Linked DNA regions of Homo sapiens: region 1 is reported to be linked to region 2. The links are microRNA targets in miRTarBase. Many come from high-throughput screens and were not tested one by one. Region 2 holds a microRNA gene; the other region holds the end of a gene's coding sequence.

Region 1 (4,058 bases), not on the chromosome of region 2:
AATTCTGTGTGTAAATCTTCCATTTGTTGAGTATCTGTGAAGCACTAGCCTCCTGTATGTTACCTCAGGAAATACCCAGAGATATAGGGAGATATTTCTGTCATCATTTATAGACATGGACATTTTAAGTTTAAGGTTTGATAAGAAAGCATTACTAAATACATTATAGATGTTGCGCTTGTTAAAGTCAGAGAATAATGTTCATATTGCATCAGTTTTCTTGTTACCCTGGGAAATAGATTGATACTTTTGGAAAAGTAGCAAAATGCTTCAGAGATCTGAACTTGCAGTCTGACCCAGTTGTTAGAATCATGGAAATAATGACCCTGGTGATATGTGCTTGTGACTATTTTCTATTTTAAATTTCACAGCGCTGGGATATGAAGCTTCGTCATCTTGGACTCAGTAAAAGTGATTCTAGCAATAGTGATTCCACTCAGAGTCAGAAGTCTGGCAGGAACTCGAACCCCCGGCAAGCACGCAACTAAATCCCGAAATACAAAAAGTAACACAGTGGACTTCCTATTAAGACTTACTTGCATTGCTGGACTAGCAAAGGAAAATTGCACTATTGCACATCATATTCTATTGTTTACTATAAAAATCATGTGATAACTGATTATTACTTCTGTTTCTCTTTTGGTTTCTGCTTCTCTCTTCTCTCAACCCCTTTGTAATGGTTTGGGGGCAGACTCTTAAGTATATTGTGAGTTTTCTATTTCACTAATCATGAGAAAAACTGTTCTTTTGCAATAATAATAAATTAAACATGCTGTTACCAGAGCCTCTTTGCTGGAGTCTCCAGATGTTAATTTACTTTCTGCACCCCAATTGGGAATGCAATATTGGATGAAAAGAGAGGTTTCTGGTATTCACAGAAAGCTAGATATGCCTTAAAACATACTCTGCCGATCTAATTACAGCCTTATTTTTGTATGCCTTTTGGGCATTCTCCTCATGCTTAGAAAGTTCCAAATGTTTATAAAGGTAAAATGGCAGTTTGAAGTCAAATGTCACATAGGCAAAGCAATCAAGCACCAGGAAGTGTTTATGAGGAAACAACACCCAAGATGAATTATTTTTGAGACTGTCAGGAAGTAAAATAAATAGGAGCTTAAGAAAGAACATTTTGCCTGATTGAGAAGCACAACTGAAACCAGTAGCCGCTGGGGTGTTAATGGTAGCATTCTTCTTTTGGCAATACATTTGATTTGTTCATGAATATATTAATCAGCATTAGAGAAATGAATTATAACTAGACATCTGCTGTTATCACCATAGTTTTGTTTAATTTGCTTCCTTTTAAATAAACCCATTGGTGAAAGTCTTTTTTTTTCTCTTCTTTTAAAATAAATCAGAATTGCCGTATTGACCAGGAAAAGATTATGTATGCACGTGCACCAGGGTTAGTTTTTAAAAGTACATGGCTCCATAAAAATGCTGTAGATTACAGAGTGATAAAATATGCAGGTTTTTTTGTTTTTGTTTTTTCTGTTGTGTGTGTGTCTGTATTTGTGTACATGTGTGTCCTTGCACTCACACCCAAGGTGGATTAAAATACAGGCCTGCAAACTGGCCTGCACTTTATCATTTGGATTTGTGCTGCTTAATGCTCAGCGAAAAATGTCTAGTAAAATGAATTATGGTTGTCAGGAGAGAGGTTATTTCGACTTTTGAACCAATTGCACATTTCTCATTACCCAAGCTGTGGTGAGATCCCAGGGGCTGTGGTGAACAAATGATGCTTTTATAGATGGTCCCTAGCTTACAATGATTCAATTTACAATGCTTCAATTTAACAATTTGTTGACTTACAATGGGTTTATCAGGATGTAACCCAATGCATTTCAACTTACGATATTTTCAGTTTCGAATGGGTTTATCCAGATGTAACCCCATCGTAAATGGCGGAGCATCTGTACTTCCTTCCTCTGGCAGAGTTCCTTAGAGCCTGTGCCAATTACTTGAAAGTTTCATTCTCTGCCATTTACATGTGTGCTATTAGTAGAACCAAATTTCTAAGCTGTGGCGTGCTGAAAATAAAATGCTTATGAAGCAAAAATCGTGCTATGTTTCCTTCTACAAGGATAATCAAGCAAGGATGAAATTCATTCCTGAACAAAAGTTTCCTAAAATGGTAAATAATCATCTATCTAAATGTTCTATTTTAAAAGTGTGAGCTGGGTGTGGTGAGTGCACCTGTAATCCCCACTACTTGGGAGGCTGAGGAAGGAAGACGGCTAGAGCCCATGAGGTTGAAGCTGCAGTAAGCTATGATTGCGGCCACTGTACTCCAGCGTAGGCGATAGAGCATGACCCTGTCTCTGTAACAACAACAAAAGTGTGAAAGTTCATTCTACAAATTGGAGTCACTCATATCATACCCAACTAAAATGGAGTCGGGAGGCCATGGGGAAAGGCACCCAGGTCCCTGTTCCAGGAACCATTTTTGCAGTTCAACAGAAAAATCACGAAGACCTAACTCTAACCTTAAGATAAAGTTACCTAGCTGCTGCCACTCACCAATCAGAACTTGCTAGATCCTACAAGACGCGCCTGGCTCCAGTGAACTTTCATTCAAAACCATTTAGATCACCTTCCTCTCTTCCCCAATAAAACCCCAGCCTTTCTCTTTGTTCTTTGAACACAACTAGAGGCTACACTGGTTTGTGTGCCCAGAATTACAATTCCAATTCTTATATTCCCAAATAAACCCTTTACTTGGAGATTTATCTCCCTATATTTAAAGGTGACAGAGTAAGGGAACATTCCTGCCTTCTGATTGACTCTCCAAAGCCAACAATTTCCCCAGCCCCAGAAGAAAACATTCCCACCTTTGCCTATAGGACTGCATAGTCTTTTGAGCTTCCAAAAGACCACTTCCAAAGGGCTTGCCATCTGCCCATTGTTGCTATATTCTCAGATGGCAAGGACATCTCTTTTGAGGTGCTGATGTCCTACCCTTAAAAGGTGAGTTGGGTGTCACTGGGGAGTAATGAAGCGCCACCGTGGATGGACTGCCCCTGAGAATCTCTCTTCCTGGTATGTAAGCCTCAACTTGAGCCTGAGGACAGAGGGGTGGAAAGTAGTGCTGGTGCCTCAGCCTGTTTTCCTCAGGCTTTCTCACGTTAACTCTGTAAAGAAGGACAAGAATTGACTACAGGAGAGGTTTAAAGGAACCGTTATCTCAAATCCACAAACCTCAACTCTCTCAATGCACAGTAAGCAATGTTAAGTAAGGAACTCTTTTGATGTATAAAAGCTGCAGATGTTTCCAGCTTCTGCAGTTTTTTTTGGGGGGTGGGGGTTGGGTAAAGGGGGTATGATCAGTTTCTGTGTAGGAATTTGACACACTTTATGCTTAATATAAACAAAACACGGCCAGATTCTTAGATTCAGCAGTTTTTTTTTTTTTTAAACCACCTTCCATTCGGTGCCATTTTACAACCTACTGTTTTACCACTACCATCTATAGTGGCAATGTTTGATTTTGCTCACCTATATGAGGCTTCTGTCAGCTGTTTAAACATTTCTAATGGTATAAAGCCCATGAATAAAGTACATTTGGTTTTTCAGTTTGATAGCTACAATATCTTCATTAATAAACTGTGCAGACCTCTTTTGGGAGGATGGCGTGATTTATCATGATGGTCACGTTTCTCAGGAGACTGCAAAACCATTTCTACTCTAGTTGCCATAGTACAAAGACACCTCGTTAATGCCTCTCTATAGGGTTTTCTTGCAGATAGTAACTTTTAAAGCCACTAAAAATTTAATATACATGCATCCTTGTCAGTAACCTTGAGATTGATAAAATTTATATTTCTTTAAAAAATTTTATTCAACTTTAGGATTTTAATTTTCTTAGCCAAATTAAAGTCAGATGCATGCTGAATAAAGTAGCAAATACTTAAATAGCAGCAAACATGGATTCTCTTTTCATGGATATGTATTTTACTGTGTCACATACAATGTAATCTGATTCAGTGCCATATGTTGCACCCAGCATTCAGGGATGGGGTGAGACAAACTGTCTTTCCACATGTGTTACACATTAA
Region 2 (4,067 bases):
GGTGATGTCATAACTGTGGCATGTTTTTCTGTGGTTTTTACAGCACTTTTTCTTTCTAAATGAGAAACTTGGAACTCTGGGTAGGAATCACATTCTCCTCTTTTAGCAGCTTTGCTGAGATGTAATTCACATATTCTGCAGTTACACATTTAAAGTGTATAGTTCATTTGCTTTTAGTATATTTAGTATATTTACAGAATTGTGCATCTGACACCTTATTCAGTTTTTGGATATTAGCCCAAGTAGGTACCCTGTATCACTTCGCTTTCAACTTATTCAGTTTTAAAAAGAAACTACAGTGAGCTAAACTATTAGTAGAGATATTCCATAATACTAAAATTTGATCTTTAAAATAAGACATAATATTGTAACTGTTTTCATTCTGTAATTTCTATATAGTAATGAAATATCTTTCATTTCAGTTCTCAAGAATGCTAGCATAAGTATTATATAGCAATGTAGTCATGAGAGTCATATTATATCATCTTTACCATATTCTCTTGGTTAGAGGTAAGTCACAGGTCCCACTCACACCCAAAGAAATATGCCTACACAAAAATACGAACACTAAGAAGGTGGGGATCATGAGGACTTCCTGGAGCCTGTCTGCCACAGCCCTTCAATTAGCGAACACTGTAAAAAATTTTGCTTCTGATTTACAAGTAATTTTAATTAACTTTTTTTCAGCTTCCCTCAGTGGTAGATTGGTGCTGTATATTTCACCAGTGATTTTGCCATTGAGATAGTATTTACTTGCCAAAGATTATAGAACAATAATCATTATACATGGAACTTCTTCATGTTAGAACTTTTTTCAGGCTTAATCTGTCTACTTCATGAAAAAGATTACCAAGAAGAGTTTCCTATTTTTGCCTAGACCTGATTTCCATCTTAAAAGATCAGTTCCAGCTTCATCTTCACCTAAATGGTCACTTATGCCACTGATTTCCGGGCTTCTTGTGATTCTGGATGCTAGAGTATCAAATAATATGGGTGAAAGGACTTTGAACTGAAAAGCACTTGTATGAATGAAAGCTTATCACTTAGTATGATTTGAAAGTCTGTTATTTGGAACACTGATTTAGTAAATTGTTATTTAGACCAAGTGTATGAATCTTTGAAGTGTAACTTTGAACCTTAATATTAGTACATACGATTATTCTCAGAGTGGGGGTAGATTTTAAAGTTCTAAGTTTTTTGGGAACCTTAAAGGTTGCTACAGAAAACCATTCTACTAATTGGAGAAAACTTTCCTAAATTTTGGAAGAAGAAAAATAATGACCAAGCACATAAACTTTGCTTGTTTGCATCATAGGATCAGAGTTTAAAAGAGATCCTGATCATTTAGTATGAAACTGAAAAATGTAGTTGATATTTAATGAATTCTTTCATTGTGTGTATGGTTGATAGTTTGTTCCTACACATTGGGGTTTGGTGTGTGTGTGAGAGAGAGCAAGAGAGAGAAACAGATTGATTTTACATTTTTCATTGGATTTACTTTTTTACAAAGCATGGTTAGAAGTTATTAATACTTTGATCTCCAGGTTGAGATTTTGGAGATGATTTTTTATTTAATGGAAATATGTAATGAGTGAGCTCTTTTGTCTACGAGCCACTCATTTTTTATCCCATTGCTTTATCGAACGAGGGCTGAAAATTTCAATTTTGAATAGCACATGGCAATTTTCCTCTTAGAGCCAGCTAGCTATTCAGTTAACTGTTCTCCCACCTCAGGATGGTATTAACAAGAACAGGACAGTATACTAAGGCACTAGTTCCCAAACATTACTGGAATCATCTGGGGGTCTTTAAAAATACTGTTTTCTGACTCCTGTCCCTGGATAATTCAGATGTAATTGCTATGGGACGATACCTGGGCATTGAGATTTTTAAAATCTCCCCCAGGTGATTGTAAGGTACAGCAAACCTTGGGAATAGTTGTACTAACTGAAGATTGAGGCACTGGAATAACTAATGTTGGGTAAGATAGGGTAAGAACTTTTTCGCAATAAGGTTTGCAGCTCTTGGGATTCTCACTTGATAATGCTGTTTGGATAAACCATCATCCAAGTTTGAATAAGATCTTATATTTAGAAATGAAAACTGATCTGCAGAATTAGTTTAATCAATAAATGGGAATTTTTAAAAATCTTCTTGGCAATTTGTTTTTATGAATCCCGTTGAAGCTGTGTCTATTGACTACCTAAATCTAGATCATTCTTAATCCAGTGTGTAAAAAACCAGGATGACACAAATGAAAAACTTCAAAAACCTGGAGGTCAGACTATTTTAGTAATTTAGAAAACATTTTTCCCACACATTAATCAGTACTAAAAGAAAAAAGTTAAAACCTATTTAAAATGTGGAAAAATTGCTTCCCAATATTTTAACAGAGAGAGACTGAGAACACACAGCATTGAGTCATCAGGAAAACTGAAGATCTCCCCTGAACAACACTGGGATTTCACTGCAGAGGACTTGAAAGACCTTGGAGAAATTGGACGAGGAGCTTATGGTTCTGTCAACAAAATGGTCCACAAACCAAGTGGGCAAATAATGGCAGTTAAAGTAGGTGATGCCATGATTATTTTTGGTACTTTAATCCATTAGGTGAAATTTCATGGTGCAGTAATACCACTGTTGTTGTGTTCCTACTTTTGTGGTAAATGTGGGTGTTTAAAAAATTGTTTCTCCAACTCCTTTGAGGGTGTTCTGTGTAGAGGTTTCTTATTGGTGGCACATTTTCTATCTCTTTGGAAACATGAGTGTATGAAGTGTGCATGTTGATTGCATTTTTGGCATGATGCATTAACATGTTTTAAACTTCAGGCCCTTCTACTGCCAAGGTGAGTTCAGGCTGGGCGGCTGCACCCCTGGGAGCAGGGCAGTGCTGCACTGAGCCAGGCGGGAGCTGGAAGAAGACGCAGCACACTGGGTTGGGCAAGGTGCGGGGCTAGGGCTAACAGCAGTCTTACTGAAGGTTTCCTGGAAACCACGCACATGCTGTTGCCACTAACCTCAACCTTACTCGGTCCTGACCGGCTCGGCTTCTGTTTGTTTATTTCATCTCTACTCAGTACTGCCCTGTTCCCTGGTTTTAAAGTTGTACTGAAATGCATACCTTGTGATAATGTTGTCACATTTTGTCCTTATTGTGTCGTGCCACTTAATATGTTCATTAAAAAAAAAAAATGGCCAGAAACAGAGATTTGATCCATAGACAATACCTGGCAAGCTTATGCTGGTACCTGTAAAGAACTGGTGGTTTCCATCTGACTCCTAGTTTCATGTAATTGTAATTTATTCATTTGTTTGTTTAGATGTTTAACAAATCTTTGCTGTATGTAAGATATTTCAGGAAAATCAGCAACAGGGGGAACAACTTGCAAAAACAAAGGAAAAAAAGCTAGCTGTGGCCATACCCTCTCTGAGCTTAAAATTCCTATGGGAACAAAAATGTTTCAGTTTACAAGAATTCAGAATGGATTTGCATATAGTCCAAGCTAATCATCTTCCTATTAGTGTCCTATTTTGAGAGTTTGTCAGAGTGGTTGATAAGAGTCCTTAGTTTTTTCTTGACATTTGAGAATGAATTTAAATTAAAATAAAATGCTTTCTGTGTAGAAGTCTGTTGTGAGCCAAACCTTACTGTAACTATTTTAGTATCCTTCACTGTTGAGCATTTCTTTTTGCTGGGTCATATGAAAGTAATGTTAAATTAGTGGTAGGGAAAATTTTTATGATTCTCTCTATGGGTTCCTAACATTGTTTTTGGCTGTATTTTTAAAATGTGGTGAGAACTATAGACTTTTCATAGGCAGGTGTATATACACAACATTTTGTATACAAACCGTAGACCTCTAAAGATGCACAGGTGAAGAACTCTGCATTATGTGTTAAAATAAAATGTTTTATTGGAATGTGAAATGATTTCTGTATTCCTATTTTGTGCCACTGCAGTGTAAGTGGAAAGAGTCATTTTATTTAGACTCCTGGATGAATGTTGTGTTGTCCCTTTGTGCTACCTGTGTGTGACATCCAGTTTTAGTTGGCTGGATCTTAAGGGA

The links. Region 2 holds the annotated microRNA hsa-miR-744-5p (UGCGGGGCUAGGGCUAACAGCA, at 2,947-2,968, shown strand). A microRNA usually pairs through its seed, bases 2 to 8, with sites in the 3' UTR of a target mRNA and lowers its output. Matches are read on the target gene's strand: a 7mer-m8 pairs with bases 2 to 8, a 7mer-A1 pairs with bases 2 to 7 and ends in A, and an 8mer does both.
Region 1: miRTarBase lists FRZB as a target of hsa-miR-744-5p. The part of its 3' UTR that is shown has no 7-base or 8-base seed match.

What each region holds. Positions count from the first base shown.
Region 1 is chr2:182,831,279-182,835,336 of GRCh38, reverse strand. It overlaps FRZB (frizzled related protein), which reads left to right. Exons shown (of 6, transcript NM_001463.4): 6 at 372-2,062. The coding sequence ends at 488. Among named protein-coding and RNA genes, the nearest start is that of FRZB, 33 kb to the left of the region's middle.
Region 2 is chr17:12,078,963-12,083,029 of GRCh38, forward strand. It overlaps MIR744 (microRNA 744), which reads left to right and starts at 2,937; the gene lies at 2,937-3,034. It overlaps MAP2K4 (mitogen-activated protein kinase kinase 4), which reads left to right. Exons shown (of 11, transcript NM_003010.4): 3 at 2,394-2,568.